Linked DNA regions of Homo sapiens. The protein of the gene in region 1 purifies or fractionates together with the protein of each later gene. This does not show direct contact. Each region holds a gene or a part of one and is shown on either strand. Other genes may lie near its edges.

Evidence for each region. The genes of interacting proteins can lie anywhere in the genome.
Region 2: the proteins of PDP2 (region 1) and UBR2 purify together in Homo sapiens (affinity purification with mass spectrometry; 2 studies listed by BioGRID and IntAct, with this or other methods). This does not show direct contact.

Annotation. Positions count from the first base shown.
Region 1 is NC_000016.10:66,875,815-66,883,518, forward strand, and holds the start of PDP2 ([Pyruvate dehydrogenase [acetyl-transferring]]-phosphatase 2, mitochondrial precursor), read left to right. Parts: upstream 1-4,700; 5' UTR 4,701-4,826; exon of another isoform or gene 4,827-4,967; intron 4,968-7,200; exon of another isoform or gene 7,201-7,288; intron 7,289-7,704. UniProt on the Homo sapiens protein: Mitochondrial enzyme that catalyzes the dephosphorylation and concomitant reactivation of the alpha subunit of the E1 component of the pyruvate dehydrogenase complex (PDC), thereby stimulating the conversion of pyruvate into acetyl-CoA.
Region 2 is NC_000006.12:42,567,023-42,574,045, forward strand, and holds part of UBR2 (E3 ubiquitin-protein ligase UBR2), read left to right. Parts: intron 1-6,711; coding exon 6,712-6,971; intron 6,972-7,023. UniProt on the Homo sapiens protein: E3 ubiquitin-protein ligase which is a component of the N-end rule pathway.

The sequences.
Region 1 (7,704 bases):
AGTTCGAGACCAGCCTGGGCAATGTGGTGAAACCCCGTCTCTACTAAAAATACAAACAAACAAACAAAAAAATTAGCCAGGCGTGGCAGCGTGTGCCTGTAGTCCCAGATACTTGGGAGGCTGAGGCAGGAGAATTGCTTGAACCCAGGAGGCAGAGGTTGCAGTGAGCCAAGATTGTGCCACTGCACTCCAGCCTAGGCAGCAGAGCAAGACTCTGTCTCAAAAAAAGAATAAATAAATAAAAAATAAAATAAAAATAGTTTTGCTTTTCCCCCCCTCATTATACAAGTTATGCTAGATGGAGTAATGTATATTTACTGTAAAAAATTTGTAATGTTCACCTTTGTCTCTTTAGGATAAATTGAAATAAGTAGAATTAGTGGATCAAAGGTATGCCCATTGAGTAGCCTCCATGTATGCTCTGTATTAGTCAGTTTTCACACTGCTATGAAGAATACCTGAGACTGCATAATTTATAAAGGAAAGAGGTTTAATTGACTCACATTTCCGCATGGCTGGGGAGGCCTCAGGAAACTTACAATCATGGCAGAAGACAAAGGGGAAGCAAGACACGTTTTAAATGGCGGCAGGCAAGCAAGAGCACAGGGGAAACTGTCTGTTATAAACAATCAGATCTCCACGAGGTCAGGAGATCCAGACCATCCTGGCTAACACAGTGAAATCCTGTTTCTACTAAAAATACAAAAAATTAGCCGAGAATGGTAGCGGGCACCTGTAGTCCCAGCTACTTGGGAGGCTTGGGCAGGAGAATGGCGTGAACCCGGGAGGCGGGGCTTGCAGTGAGCTGAGATCGCGCCACTGCACTCCAGCCTGGGCAACAGAGCGAGACTCTGTTAAAAAAAAAAAACAAAATCAGATCTCGTGGGAACTCACTCACTATTATGAGAACAGCATGAGGGAACAGCCCTTATGATCCAATCACCTCCCACCAGATCCCTCCCTTGACAAGTGGGAATTACAATTTGAAATGAGATTTGGGTGGGGACAAAGAGCCAAACCATATCACACTCCCTGCTAAGATGGCAATGCTCTCTTGCCAATGTTATGTATTTAAACCCTGTTTTAATATTTACCAGGTTGACTGACAAAAATTAATGGTTCATTTAATTAGCATTTCTTTTTCTTTTATTTATTATTATTATTAATATTACTTTGAGACAGGGTCTGGCTCTTTTGCCCAAGGTGGAGTGTAGTGGCACAATCTTGGCTCACTGCAACCTCTGCCTCCCAGGCTCAAGCCATCCTCCCATCCTCCCACCTCAGTCTCCTGAGTAGCTGGGACTACAGATGCATACCACCACGCCTAGCTAATTTTTGTTTTGTTTGTTTGTTTGTTTGTTTGTTTGAGACAGAGTCTCACTCTGTCACCCAGGCTGGAGTGCAACCTCTGCCTACCAGGTTCAAGCACTTCTCCTGCCTCAGCCTCCTGTAGCTGGGATTACAGACACAAACTACTACACCTGGCTAATTTTTTGTATTTTTATTAGAGACAGGGTTTCACTATGTTGGCCAGGCTGGTCTCAAACTCCCGACCTCAAGTGATCTGCCCACCTTGGCCTCCCAAAGTGCTGGGATTACAGGCGTGAGCCACCGCCCCCAGCCTAATTTTTGTATTTTTTGTAGAGATGGGGGGGTTTCACCATGTTGCCCAGGCTGGTCTCGAACTCCTGAGCTCAAGTGATCTACCTACCTCGGCCTCCCAAATTGTTGGGATTACAGGCATGAGCCACTGTGCCTGGCCATTTCTTTGGTTTTGAGTGAGGCTGAATATTTTTACATCTTTTCTCTAAAAATGCCAATTGAACAGCTGGGCACAGTGGCTCACGCCTGTAATCCCAGCACTTTGGGAGGCCAAGGCAGGCAGATCACAAGGTCAGGAGTTTGAGACCAACCTGGCCAACATAGTGAAACCCCCTCTCTACTAAAAATACAGAAATTAGCCGGGTATGATGGCACATGCCTGTGGTCCCAGCTACTTGAGAGGCTGAGCCGGGAGAATCGCTTGAACCCGGGAGGCGGAGGTTGCAGTGAGCCGAGACCACACCATTGCCCTCCAGACTGGGTGACAGAGTGAGACTCCATATCAAAACAAAAACAAAAACAAAAACAAAAAAAACCTGCCAATCGAGCTATGCTTTCCCTTTCTCGAAGGAGAGAGAAGTAATCCTTTTCCATCGTATTTGCTTATAAGACCTTGGGACAAGGAAGCCTTGAGAGATCCGGTGAGGGACTTCGGCTGGCCATCCTATATAGGGTGACTGAACTGGTTATAGCCTTGAAATGAAAGTTCCAATGCACATAAAATCCTCCAGGGTGCATTTTTACTTTGGAAGTGGGTGTGTGTGGTAACTTAGAAAAACTCAGTGGTTTCAGGCTTGGTGGAATGATGTAATTTTTCTCAGGAAAGTGGCGGGGGCCGCCATCTGTGTGTCTCAGCAGTCAGCCCAGGGCCTGACACATTGTGGGCACCCATAACACCTGCAGATTGAATAATTAAACACTGCTGCCTCTGTCCGGAAGGGTAACCCGTTGTGACCCTATATGACCTGTCTGCTGGGGGGAGGGAAGAAGTGTGCTTTTGCATTCTCTTGCACTCATTTATTAGAAACCCTTAGACTTTTTTTTAGTTTGGGTCTGAAACAGTCCTCTTAATATGCAGGAAGAGAGATATTGCCAGTCCTGACTTTGAACTTCTGGAAAGGGCTAAGGGTGAGTGGAACTATAAATATACAAGGGCAAGTCTGACATGAGCAGTTTTATTGTGACCACGTCCTTGGGTCCAGGAGGCTGGCCAGGCTGCCCAGGTAAGCCAGGGTGTCTTCCTTCTGGAAAACCACACTCTCAGGGCTCCAAGTGGCTTTTTCTGGTTGTCTCCCATTTTTCTCTGTCTCCAGGGAAGGACTCCATCTGACTTACCATAGTTACAAGAGTTCTGTGAAAATAATTTATAAGGAAGCAGGTCATCACTGGAATGCCACAATGTTAGGACCAGAAGGGACGGAGGGATTATCTGGTGTCGGGGTTCGCTGTCTCTCTCAACCTACCAGCCGCCAGCCGTGCTGAGTTAATTGTCAGTAGCAGGCCAATATAATGGTCAGTTCAAAGCTTAATGGTTTGTGGGAAACCACTAAAGACTTTAGGGCAGGAGGCCGGGCGCGGTGGCTCACGCCTGTAATCCCAGCACTTTGGGAGGCGGAGGCGGGCGGATCACGAGGTCAGGAGATCGAGACCATCCCGGCTAAAACGGTGAAACCCCGTCTCTACTAAAAATACAAAAAATTAGCCGGGCGTAGTGGCGGGCGCCTGTAGTCCCAGCTACTTGGGAGGCTGAGGCAGGGGAATGGCGTGAACCCGGGAGGCGGAGCTTGCAGTGAGCCGAGATCCCGCCACTGCACTCCAGCCTGGGCGACAGAGCGAGACTCCGTCTCAAAAAAAAAAAAAAAAAAAAAAAAAAAAGACTTTAGGGCAGGAATTTGAGGGTTTTTTTGGTTTGTTTTTGTTTCTGTTTTTGTTTTTTTTGAGACAGACTCTCACTCTGTCTCCCAGGCTGGCGTGCAGTGGCATGATCTCACCTCAGTGCAACTTCCACCTCCCTGGTTCAAATGATTCTCATGCCTCAGCCTCCCAGGTAGCTGGGACTACAGGCGCGCACCACCACTCCCAGCTAATTTTTGTATTTTTAGTAGAGACGGTTTCGTGATGTTGGCCAGGCTGGTCTCAAACTCCTGACCTCAGGAGATCCCCCCGCCTCGGCCTCCCAAAGTGCTGGGATTACAGGCAGGAGCCACCGCACTCGGCCTTGGAATTTGAGTTTTAGAAGTGTCATTCTGCCAGGCGTGATGGCTCACGTCTGTAATCCCAGCACTTTGGGGAGGCTGAGGTGGGAGGATTGCTTGAGCCCGGCAGTTTGAGACCAGCCTGGGCAACATAGAAAGACCTTGTCTCTACCCACCAACCACGAGAAAAGGTGGGAGGGGCGTCATTCTGGCTGCTCTGCTCTGTGGTTAGGACCAAGTCAAAGGTGGAGGAGGGAAAACCGTAAAATCAAGTGAGAGGCTTGGAATAGGGTGGCTGCGTCGCCGGATGGATGAGTGGAGAGAGATTTAGGAGATAGGATTTACAGCATTAGATAACTGGAAAGAGAGGGTGAGGGAGAGGAAGGAGTCAAGATGCCTCCCAGGGTTTTGGCTTGGGTCTCTGGGCAGATGGTGGGGCCATTACTGGGTTAGGAGAGAAGAGAAAAAGCAAGTTTGGCAGAAAGCTGAGTTTGGGGTAAGTTATGTTTGAGGCGCCTGGGGGCCTCCAGAGGCAGGTGTCCAGGTGGCTGGACATCAGGGTGTGGCGCTCAAGAGAGGGTTCTGGAGTGGTCGACACCGAAGTGGAGAGGAAGCAGTGAGGTGTTCTAACAACGGTGAGGAATTGGGGAGGCCGCTGGGTTCGGGGTATGCAGAGTGTAGCGGCCACGTAGCTGGCGATCTCAGGCACGTGACTGCCTGGTCCTGTGGCCCCGCGCTCGAACACTTTCAGCACCCAGGCAGGGGGTAAGGGGCGGTGTTGCCCCCTCCCGGGTCCCGCCTTTCTGCCCGCCTCTCATCCTCTTTAGCCATTGGGCAATACCTCTGTCCATCAAGGGCCCGCCTCCGCAATTGAGCCAACCAGGGCTGGCGGGAGGGCGCTTCCTTCTGGAGCTGGGTCCTGACTAGGGACCGCCTGGGTGAGGTGAGGACCTGGTGGCCGCAGTTGTGGCACTGTGCGCAGGCGCTGAACTGACCGGACGGAGCGGGCGGCTGTGGCCTCGCCAGCTGGTGAGAAGCGGGCGAGGGTCCGAGGTAGGGAAGGTAACGAGCGGGGGATGTGGACACCTCTTTCCCCGCCAGGCCTCGCCGGCGCCTGACCCTCCCGGCCTGCGGCACCGGCTCAGGTGACTGGGCGGAGGGAGAGCTGAGGTGAGGGGGCGGGTCCGCGGCGGAGAGGGACCAGCTGGGCCTACGACCACGGTCACCCCACTCACGTGCGCGCGCCACGTGGGCCCGCGGGCTCGCCGAGGACCCTTGGCTGCCTACCGGGGCACCCCACTAGCTGCTCTGGCCTATCGAGCACCCCTTGGAGCTCTGTGTCCCGACTGCACGCCCCTGTTTTACAGGCTGGCAAGCCGGGGCTCAGAGGCACCAAGCGGGTCGCCCGGGGGCACCCAGCTGGGGTACGGCCGTGCCGGGGTTCTAGGGAGATCGGTTTTGGTGGGCTCCGGAGTCCATGCACTTAGCGATGAGGCTGAAGTCAGAGATTTGAACTTGGGACCTGTCTGTTTTCTTTAAGGATGCAAGAGGGTTTGCGTCCTGGCTGCGGTGTATCACCCTGCACCGCTGCCTGCCTTGACTGCAGGGCCGGAGCGTCAGGCGCCCTCTGCTCCCGGACAGACCGCCCCCGCACCGACTTCTGCGGGGTGGGCTGGCAGGGGGTGGGGGAGTGAAGGGACGGTCCTCAGTCCTGGGAACTCTTGAGGTCCCGACAAATGATCTCGAGATCCCGAGGGCAGGATTCATACATGAAAAGCTCATTATAATGGGTCAAGGTTTTGTTCTGTTTTTTTTTTTTTAATTTAATTTAATTTAATTTAATTTAATTTAATTTATTATATTCCAAGGAAAAGTACCACCAGGGCTAGTGAAGGGACTAGGAAACTCGTCACCCCCTTGAGGAGGCAGATGTGAAGCTTTTGGAAATCAGTTTGGCAATGAGTCTACACCCTTGGACCTACTGACTCCTTGTTTGGGAAATAACTAGGATAAAACCTAAGTAGAGAAAAGGTTACTGCATAAAGCAGTACAGTTTGGTGGGGTTTTGTTGTTGTTGTTGTTTTTAAAGAGACAGATCTGGCTCTGTCGCCCAGGCTGGAGTGCAGTGGTGTGATCATAGCTCACTGCAGTCTTGAAATCTTGGGCTCAAGCGATCCTCCCACCTCAGCCTCTTGAGTAGCTGGGACTACAGGCACTTACCACCATGCCCAGCTAATCTAAAAATTTTTGTAGAGATGGGGCACTTGCTGTATCACCCAGGGTGGTCTTAAACTCCCTAGCCTCAAGTGATCCTCTTGCCTTGGCCTCCCAAAATGCTGAGATTATAGGCATGAGCCACTGTGCCCAGTCCAGTTTGGTATTTTATATTAATAAATAGCAAGTAGTAGAAACAACCTCTAAATTTCCAGCCGTAAAGAATAGTTAAGTAAGTTGTGATTATTTATGTCAAAATGTAGCCATCAGATGTGAAAAAATACTCTTATCAGGAAAGCCAGATTCAAAGTTGGGGTTACAACTCTACAAAAATACGTACAGAATGACTGTGCGCAGTAGCTCCCACCTGTAATCTCAGCACTTTGGGAGGCCAAGGGCGGAAGATCGCTTGAGCCTAGGAGTTTGAGACCAGCCTGGAAAACACGGGGAGACCCTGTCTATTAGCTGGGCCTGGCGGCACATGCCTGTAGTCCCAGCTATGTAGGAGGCTGAGGCAGGAGGATCCCTTGAGGCCAGAAGGGCAAGGCTGCAGTGAGCCACGATCTTACCATTGCACTCTAGCCTGGGGACAGAGCCAGGCTCCATCTCAAAAACAAAACAAAACAAAAAAAAACCAAACAAAAAATACCCAGAATGACTTAGAGGGGTATATACCTAATGATGAAAATAATAGCTACTTTTTTTTTTTTAGCAGAAGCGTCATATTTTATTAAATTCTCACAAAACCTTCTAAGACTAATATTCCCATTCCACCAATAGATAACTGGAGTGTTACCTCATCAGCAGTGTGTCTGATGCTACACAAGATAGTATCACAGCTAGTGTGCTATTGGGCCTCTGAAAATGTCATATTTAGCCAGTATTTGAGGACTTAGTGTGTGCCGGGTACAGGGCCAGGCACTGGAAAGCTGTTGGTGAGTAAGGCAGCCATAGTTGCTTGAGTCATGGAGTTTATAGACTAGTGGGGAAATATACATGTATATAAAATTTAGTTTTTGAGACAGGGTCTTGCTCTGTTGCCCAGGCTGGAGTGCAGTGGCAGGAGCACAGCTCATTGCAGTCTTGACCTCCAGGGCTTAAGCAATCCTCTCACCTCAGCCTTACAAGTGAATGGGGCTATAGGTGTGCGCCACCATGCCCAACTAATTTGTAAAAAAATTTTTTGTAGAAACCAGGTCTCCTTATGTTGCCCAGGCTGGTCTTGGAACTCCTAGGCTCAAGTGATCCTCCCGCCTCAGCCTTTGGAGTGGTTACAGGTATGAGCCACTATGCCCGAAGCAGATTATTTATTTATTTATTTATTTTTGAGACGGAGTTTCGCTCTCGCCCAGGCTGGAGTGCAGTGGTGCAATCTTGGCTCACTGCAAACTCTGCCTCCTGGGTTCACGCCATTCTCCTGCCTCAGCCTCCTGAGTAGCTGGGACTACAGGCGCCCATCACTGCACCCAGCTAAATTTTTGTATTTTTAGTAGAGACGGGGTTTCACTGTGTTAGCCAGGATGGTCTCGATCTCCTGAACTCGTGATCAGCCCACCTCGGCCTCCCAAAGTGCTGGGATTACAGGCGTGAGCCACCGCGTCAGGCCTGTTTTTGTTTTCTTTGAGACAGGGTCTCACTCCCTCTCTAGTGAGGCCCAGGCTAGACTGCAGTGGCACAATCACTGCTTTCTGCA
Region 2 (7,023 bases), on another chromosome or scaffold:
GGTTGAAAGCACATTTTAGGGAAGAGAAACAAGTAGAGAAAACAGTGATTGTAGGCTTTAGACCTCTGTCATTGGTAATTTGTTAGGATCACTTCCATTTAAAAATCACCTAATGAGCACTAGTGTCAACCTTTCCACATTTCATTTACACACCGCTTTTCTTATTCCTGTTATAAGGAGGAAGAACTTTTTGTGATCCCATCCATTCCAGCTAGTATGCCTCACAAAGAAAAGTATCTAAGCTGACTCTTTAATATTTGTAAGTTTAGGATATTACAGTGGCCCTCTCTTCTCATTCTTCTCTTTTCTTGTTAGAATTGACTCCATAAGTATGACTTTCCCAACACTTCTTGGCTCTGTTTACTTTCTATACTACATATGGTTATAGTATGTTCCAGTGAGTGATTACGGTTTTAAAAGTAAACATGCCGGGTGTGGTGGCTCTTGCCTGTAATCCCAGCACTTTGGGAGGCCAAGGAGGGCAGATCACAAGGTCAAGAGATAGAGACCATCCTGGCCAACATGGTGAAACCCTGTCTCTACTAAAAATACAAAAATTAACCGGGCATGGTGGTGCACCCCTGTAATCCCAGCTATTCGGGAGGCTGAGGCAGGAGAGTTGCTTGAACCCAGGAGGCTGGGGTTGCAGTGAGCCGAGATCGCGCCACTGCACTCCAGCCTGGGTGACAGAGCGGGACCCCATCTTTTTCCCTGAATATAAAAGAAATACAGGTTGGGAGCACTGGCTCATGCCAGTAATCCCAGCTATTTGGGAGGCTGAGGTGGGAGGACTGCTTAAGTCTAAGAGTTTGAGACCAGCCTGGGCAACATTAGCTATACCCTGTCTCTACTAAAAAAAAATAAAATAAAATAAATAAGCTGGGTGTGGTGGCATGAACTTGCAGTCCTAGCTACTCAGAAGGCTAAGCAGGGAGGATCGCTTGAGCCCAGGTGTTAGAAGTTACAGTGAGCTATGATCATGCCACTGTACTCCATCTTGGGTGATACAGTGAGACCCTGTCTTCAAAAAAAATTTTGTTTTAATAAATAATGAATTTGTTAAGTTTTATGTAGAGTTTTAGGTCTGTATTGGTTATCTTTTTGCTGTACATTTTTTAAACCGTTTTATTGAGATATAACTCACATACTGTACAGTTAAATTCAGTGGTTTTTAGTATATTCAGATTCATGCAATCATCACTATGATCAATTTTGGGACATTTTTATCACCCCAAAAAAGAAATCCTGTACCTATTGGCAGTCACTTCCCTTTCACACCTAAACTCCTGAGGTCTAATCAACTACTAATTTTTGTCTGTGTAGATTTGCCTATTCTGGATATTTCGTATAAATGGAATTCAACATATTGTCATTTGTGGCTGACTTCTTTCTCTTAGATAATGTTTTAAATATTTATCCATGTTGGGCCAGGCGCGGTGGCTCACACCTGTAATTCCAGCACTTTGGGAGGCCAAGGCAGGTAGATCACAAGGTCAGGAGATCGAGACCATCCTGGCTAACACGGTGAAACTCCGTCTCTACTAAAAAATACAAAAAATTAGCCGGGCGTGGTGGCAGGCGCCTGTGGTCCCAGCTACTTGGGAGGCTGAGGCAGGAGAATGGCATGAACCCGGGAGGCGGAGCTTGCAGTGAGTCAAGATCGCGCCACTGCACTCCAGCCTGGGCAACAGAGCGAGACTCTGTCTCAAAAAAAAAATAATAAAAATAAAATATTTATCCATGTTGTACCATGTACAGGTTGAGTATTGTTACGCTTGCCACCAGAAGTGTTTTGGATTTTGGATTTTTTTGGATTTTAAAATATTTGCAGTTATACCAGTTGAGCATCCTTAATCCAAAATCCAAATGTTCCAATGAGCACTTCTTTGAGCATCGTGTGGGCATGCAAAGTTTCAGATTTTGGATCATTTTGGATTTCACGTTTTCAAATTAGGGATGCTCAACCTGTGTCAGTAATTCTTTCTTTTTTATTGCCAAATGACATTCCTTTGTATAGATAAACCATATATTATTTATCTGTTCATCAGTTGGTGAATATTTGGGTTGTTTCTACTTTTTGGGTATTATGAATCATGTTGCTGTGAACATTTTTTACAAATTTTTGTGGGGACATATGCTTTTGTTTCTCTTGGGTATATACATACCTAGAAGTGAAATTGGTGGGTCATATGTTAACTATTTTGAAGAACTGCCAGATTTTTCCAAAGCAGTTGCATTGTTTTACATTCCCACCAGTAGTGCATGAGAGTTCCAATTTCTCCAGATCCTTGCCAACACTTGTTTTTGCCTGTGTTTTGATTACAGCCATTCTTTTGGGTGTTATGCCTTCTCATTGTGGTTTTGATTTGCATTTCCCTCATGAGTCATGTTGGAACATCTTTTTATGAGCTTATTGGCCATTTTTATGTCTTCTTTGCCTATTTTCAATTAGTCTTTTGACCTATTAAATTTCTATATTTTATTTGTAAATATTCTCCTTAATTTGTAGAGCTCTTAATATAATTTGTTTAAAATTTTTCTCAATATATTCCCTAAAACTCCCACTTAAACACTATTGTTTTTATGGTTATGAGCACTAGTTGTTTTATGATTAACTTACATGTTGCTTATCCTTGTTTGAAAGCAAAACCAAAAGTAGTTAAAGGATACAATTTTAATTGGGTATAGAATAATAGAGACTGTAATAAAAGGCTAACTAACCTCTAGGGATTCTTTCATTTTTCATTTCATTTTTATTTTATTGTACTTGCTTTCTATCCCAAGGCTTAAATTTAGTATTTAATAGAGGGAAAGCTCCTGGAAACATTGTCATAACATGTTTACTTTAGAGGAATGAGTTGACAGTTTCTTTACTTCCCTTAAGAGGGACTTGTAGTAAGATAGTGAATGCTTATTACTCTCTTATGCCACATGGGTGTGACAGCTACAAGTGTCTGAAATAAAGACAAAAGGCCAACCAAACTGGAAATCTTAATTTTTCATGTTGAAGAAACAGTTGCAGTTAGCATATGTTAGAACTAATATGAAAAGCTATAGATTTTATTCTTTGGGGAAATGTGTGAGCTACTTCTGAAAGACAGTCATAAATTTTTCTTGCTTTTTATATTAAGTATGTATGTTTAATCAGCTTAAAGTGCCTGTAATAGAGCCCAAATCTTTTAGGTGATTGTGATTTTTTCATATAATGGTAGTAAAGTTTTTGGTTTTGAGACGGAGTCTCACTCTGTCCTCCAGGCTGGAGTACAGTGGCGTGATCTAGGCTCACTGCAACCTCCACCTCCTGAGGTCAAGCGATTCTTTTGCCTCAGCCTCCCAAGTAGCTGGGATTACAGGCGTGCACCACCACTCCTGGCTAATTTTTGTATTTTTAGTAGAGATGGGGTTTCACCATGTTGGCCATGGTGGTCTCGAACTCCTGGCCTCAAGTGATCTGCCCACCTTGGCCTCCCAAAGTGCTGGGATTATAGGCGTGAGCCACTGTGCCCAGGAGTAGTAAAGATTTGAAAAATGGGGAGCATATGCATGCCTTTCTTGGACCAGACTTTTAAGTCTTGTTATTTATAATAATATGTAATAAAGAGTGAAATACTTGCTTGTTTTACTAATAATATTTTTATGTAAAGTGGCTAGTTTTTTTTTTGTTGTTTGTTTGTTTTTTGAGACAGGATCTCACTCTGTCACCCAGGCTGAAGTGCAGTGGCGTGATCATGCCTCACTGAAGCCTCAACCTCCGGGGCTCAGGTGATCCTCCCACCTCAGCCTCCTGAGTAGCTGGGACTACAGGCATGCACCACCATGCCCAGCTAATCTTCTTTTATTTTTAGAAGAGACAGGGTTTTGCCATATTGCCCAAGCTAGACTCGAACCTCTGAACTCAAATGAGCCACCCGCCTTGGCCTCCCAAGTGCTGGGATTACAGGCATGAGCCAAAGAGCCTGGCCGATTTTTTTTTTTTTTCTTAACCAGAAGCTGATACTAGCGTCTGAATTTTTGTTGAAGAAATCTATGAACAAATTTGCTCTCGTTACAGTTACTAGACTGCATAATTTTTTTTTAGAAAGCATCCATGCTAGCCTGTAGTCCCAGCTACTTGGGAGGCTGAGGCAGGAGAATGGCGTGAACCTGGGAGGCGGAGCTTTCAGTGAGCCGAGATCGCGCCACTGCACTCCAGCCTGGGTGACAGAGCAAGACTCCGTCTCAAAAAAAAAAAAAAAAAAAAAAAAGCATCCCTTCTAAAGTAACCTTTCATTCTTGTATTAAAATTTTGCAACAGTGAAGTTTTACAGGAATGGGAACATAAAATATAAGGAAAAAAACTGGTTTTTAAATAAAATCTTTCAATATGTTGTAAAAAAAAGTCCGAAGCACTTAACTTTCTAGGATCATGGAGGTGAATTATTTTGGTCTTATTGCTTAATTTTTCTTTCATAAAGAGTAAATTGAATCCTAGCACCTTTGGGAGGCCGAGGTGGGCAGATCACCTGATGTCAGGAGTTTGAGACAAGCCTGGTCAACATAGTGAAACCTTGTCTCTACTAAAAATACAAAAATTAGCCGCGTGTGGTGGTGCACACCTGTAACCCCAGCTACTCAGGAGGCTGAGGCAGGAGAATCACTTGAACCTGGGAGGCAGAGGTTGCAGTGAGCCGAGATCGTACCACTGCACTCCAGCCTGGGCGACAGCACGAGACTCAAAAAAAAAAAAAAAAAAAAGCGCTTAGGATCATTTGACTACCTTCATTCTTGTTTTGGTTTGCTGACAATGGGTGAAAAATGAGACATTTACCTTTGAATGAGGCCAAAACGAGGTCTTTTAGCTCAAAGAATAAGATTCTAGTATGCTTGTTGAGGACTCTTTTTCTTTTTTTAAAACTTGTCCTCTTTATAATTACTGAGCTTAAAGGATGTGTATGTATATATAAAATTTTGATTGAGTCACTCTGAAGGGAGAGAATACTTAAAGCCTGTAGGATTGTCTCCTAAGAAATGATGCTGCTGCTGCTGTTTTATTTTTATTTTTATTTTTTTTTCCCTAACCACTTGGCCACCAGGGAAGAAATGCTGTTGTTTTGAAAGTAATTTAGTCTCTTTCCTACTTGCATAATGTAAACACAACAATGTTAGTAATATTTGGAAAATAGTTTAGTTTCACTTTAAGCATGAAAACTCTTTCACCGTTTTTGGTTATAAGCTTCTATCCAGTCCCTTAACTTATGAACAAAATTTTTACATTTTTAGTAAAAGTTCTCTGAAAACAGAAATTGACTAGAAAGTTAATATACATCACCTCATGCATATTTAAAATCTCTCTGTATGTTGTTTTTAGAAGGAGTGGTCTGAAGAATATACAAGTAATAGCTAAAATGAAGACCTTATGTTGACTTCTTATGATGTTACATATCACTTGAACATACTTTTTTTTTTTTTTTAAATAAAAATGTAACTGGAATTAGGTAGTAATCCATAGGTAAACATTGGAGGTTTTTTTTAATTTCAGCTTTTACTTTAGATTTAAGGAATACATGTGCAGGTTTGTTACATGAGTATATTGCACCTGGGTAGTGAGCATAGTACCCAATAGGTAGTTTTTCAACTCACTTCCCCTTCCTCTTTCCCTCCATCTGTGGGTTTTGTTCACGGTTCAGTTAACTGCATTCTAGCAGAAGTGAGTCTTTTTTTTTTTTTGTCCTTTGAGACAGACTCTTGCTCTGTCGCCCAGGCTGGATCTTGGCTCACTACAACCTCTGCCTCCTGGGTTTAAGCGATTTCTCCTGCCTCAGCCTCTTGAGTAACTGTGATTACAGGCATGCGCCACCACATCCAGCTAATTTTTATATTTTTAGTAGAGAAGAGACTTCACCATGTTGGCCAGGCTGGTCTTGAACTCCTGACCTCAGGTGATCTGCTTGGCCTGGCCTCCCAAAGTGCTGGGAAGCTTTTCAGATTTTTCGGTGTGGATACCCAGGTTGAGCTGGAAATGGAGAAAATAACAGATTTTGGTGGAGCATGGAGGGGAGATCATGCATTCAGTTATTGAGTTGGTACCTATGAGATCTAAGTAGAATCATGCTTTAAAATTTGTTTTTAGTGGGGAGAGCAAACGGAAAAGGCCTTATAGAGAGAGAGAAGTTGATCAGAGAAAGAAGGCATAATTGGTACAACAGTCTCTTGTGGACTGACTTATTCAATAAGAGACTGGTATATAAACTTGCTTATCAATCATTAAGAAATGTGTATTGGCTGTTCATGTTCACCGTACATATTGGCTGTTCATATTCACCGTACACTCTTCCTATGGACAAACTGACGTGAGAATTGATATCACAATGAGAATAACATTTGAGCAAAGCATTAGGAAGGACATTAGGTGAGCTCAATGGTTCATATCTTATATAATGATTTCTTGTAATTATTTTCTGGTACTGCCTAGAGAAGATTGCTTCAAGAGTCATTTTGCAGGGAAGGAGGGAGGCTTGTTTCATTTTAATTTTACTTACACTTAAAAGTAGGATTTAAACATACTTGGCATTTTAATAGATTAAATTTCTAACGTACGGTGGTGAGTGTTGTAAACAAAATATTTTAATATGCTTTTGTCATTATTTTTGTACCTAAAAGAAAGTAGGGTGAATTTGTTCAAATTAGTTTGTTGGTGTTTAAAACCATTTCTTCTCTTTTCTTCTTTTAAAGAAATGGCTGCAAGCAACTGACCTCACTAGAGAAGTGTACCAGCATTTAGCCCACTATGTACCCAAAATCTACTGCAGGGGTCCCAACCCTTTTCCACAGAAAGAAGACATGCTGGCACAGCATGTTTTGTTGGGACCAATGGAATGGTACCTTTGTGGTGAAGATCCTGCATTTGGATTTCCAAAACTTGAGCAAGCAAACAAACCTTCTCATCTTTGTGGTCGTGTTTTTAAAGTAGGAGAGCCTACATATTCTTGCAGGTAAAATATTTTAATTTTCTTTCTAGGAGGCTCTTGTTTTATTTGACCTCTT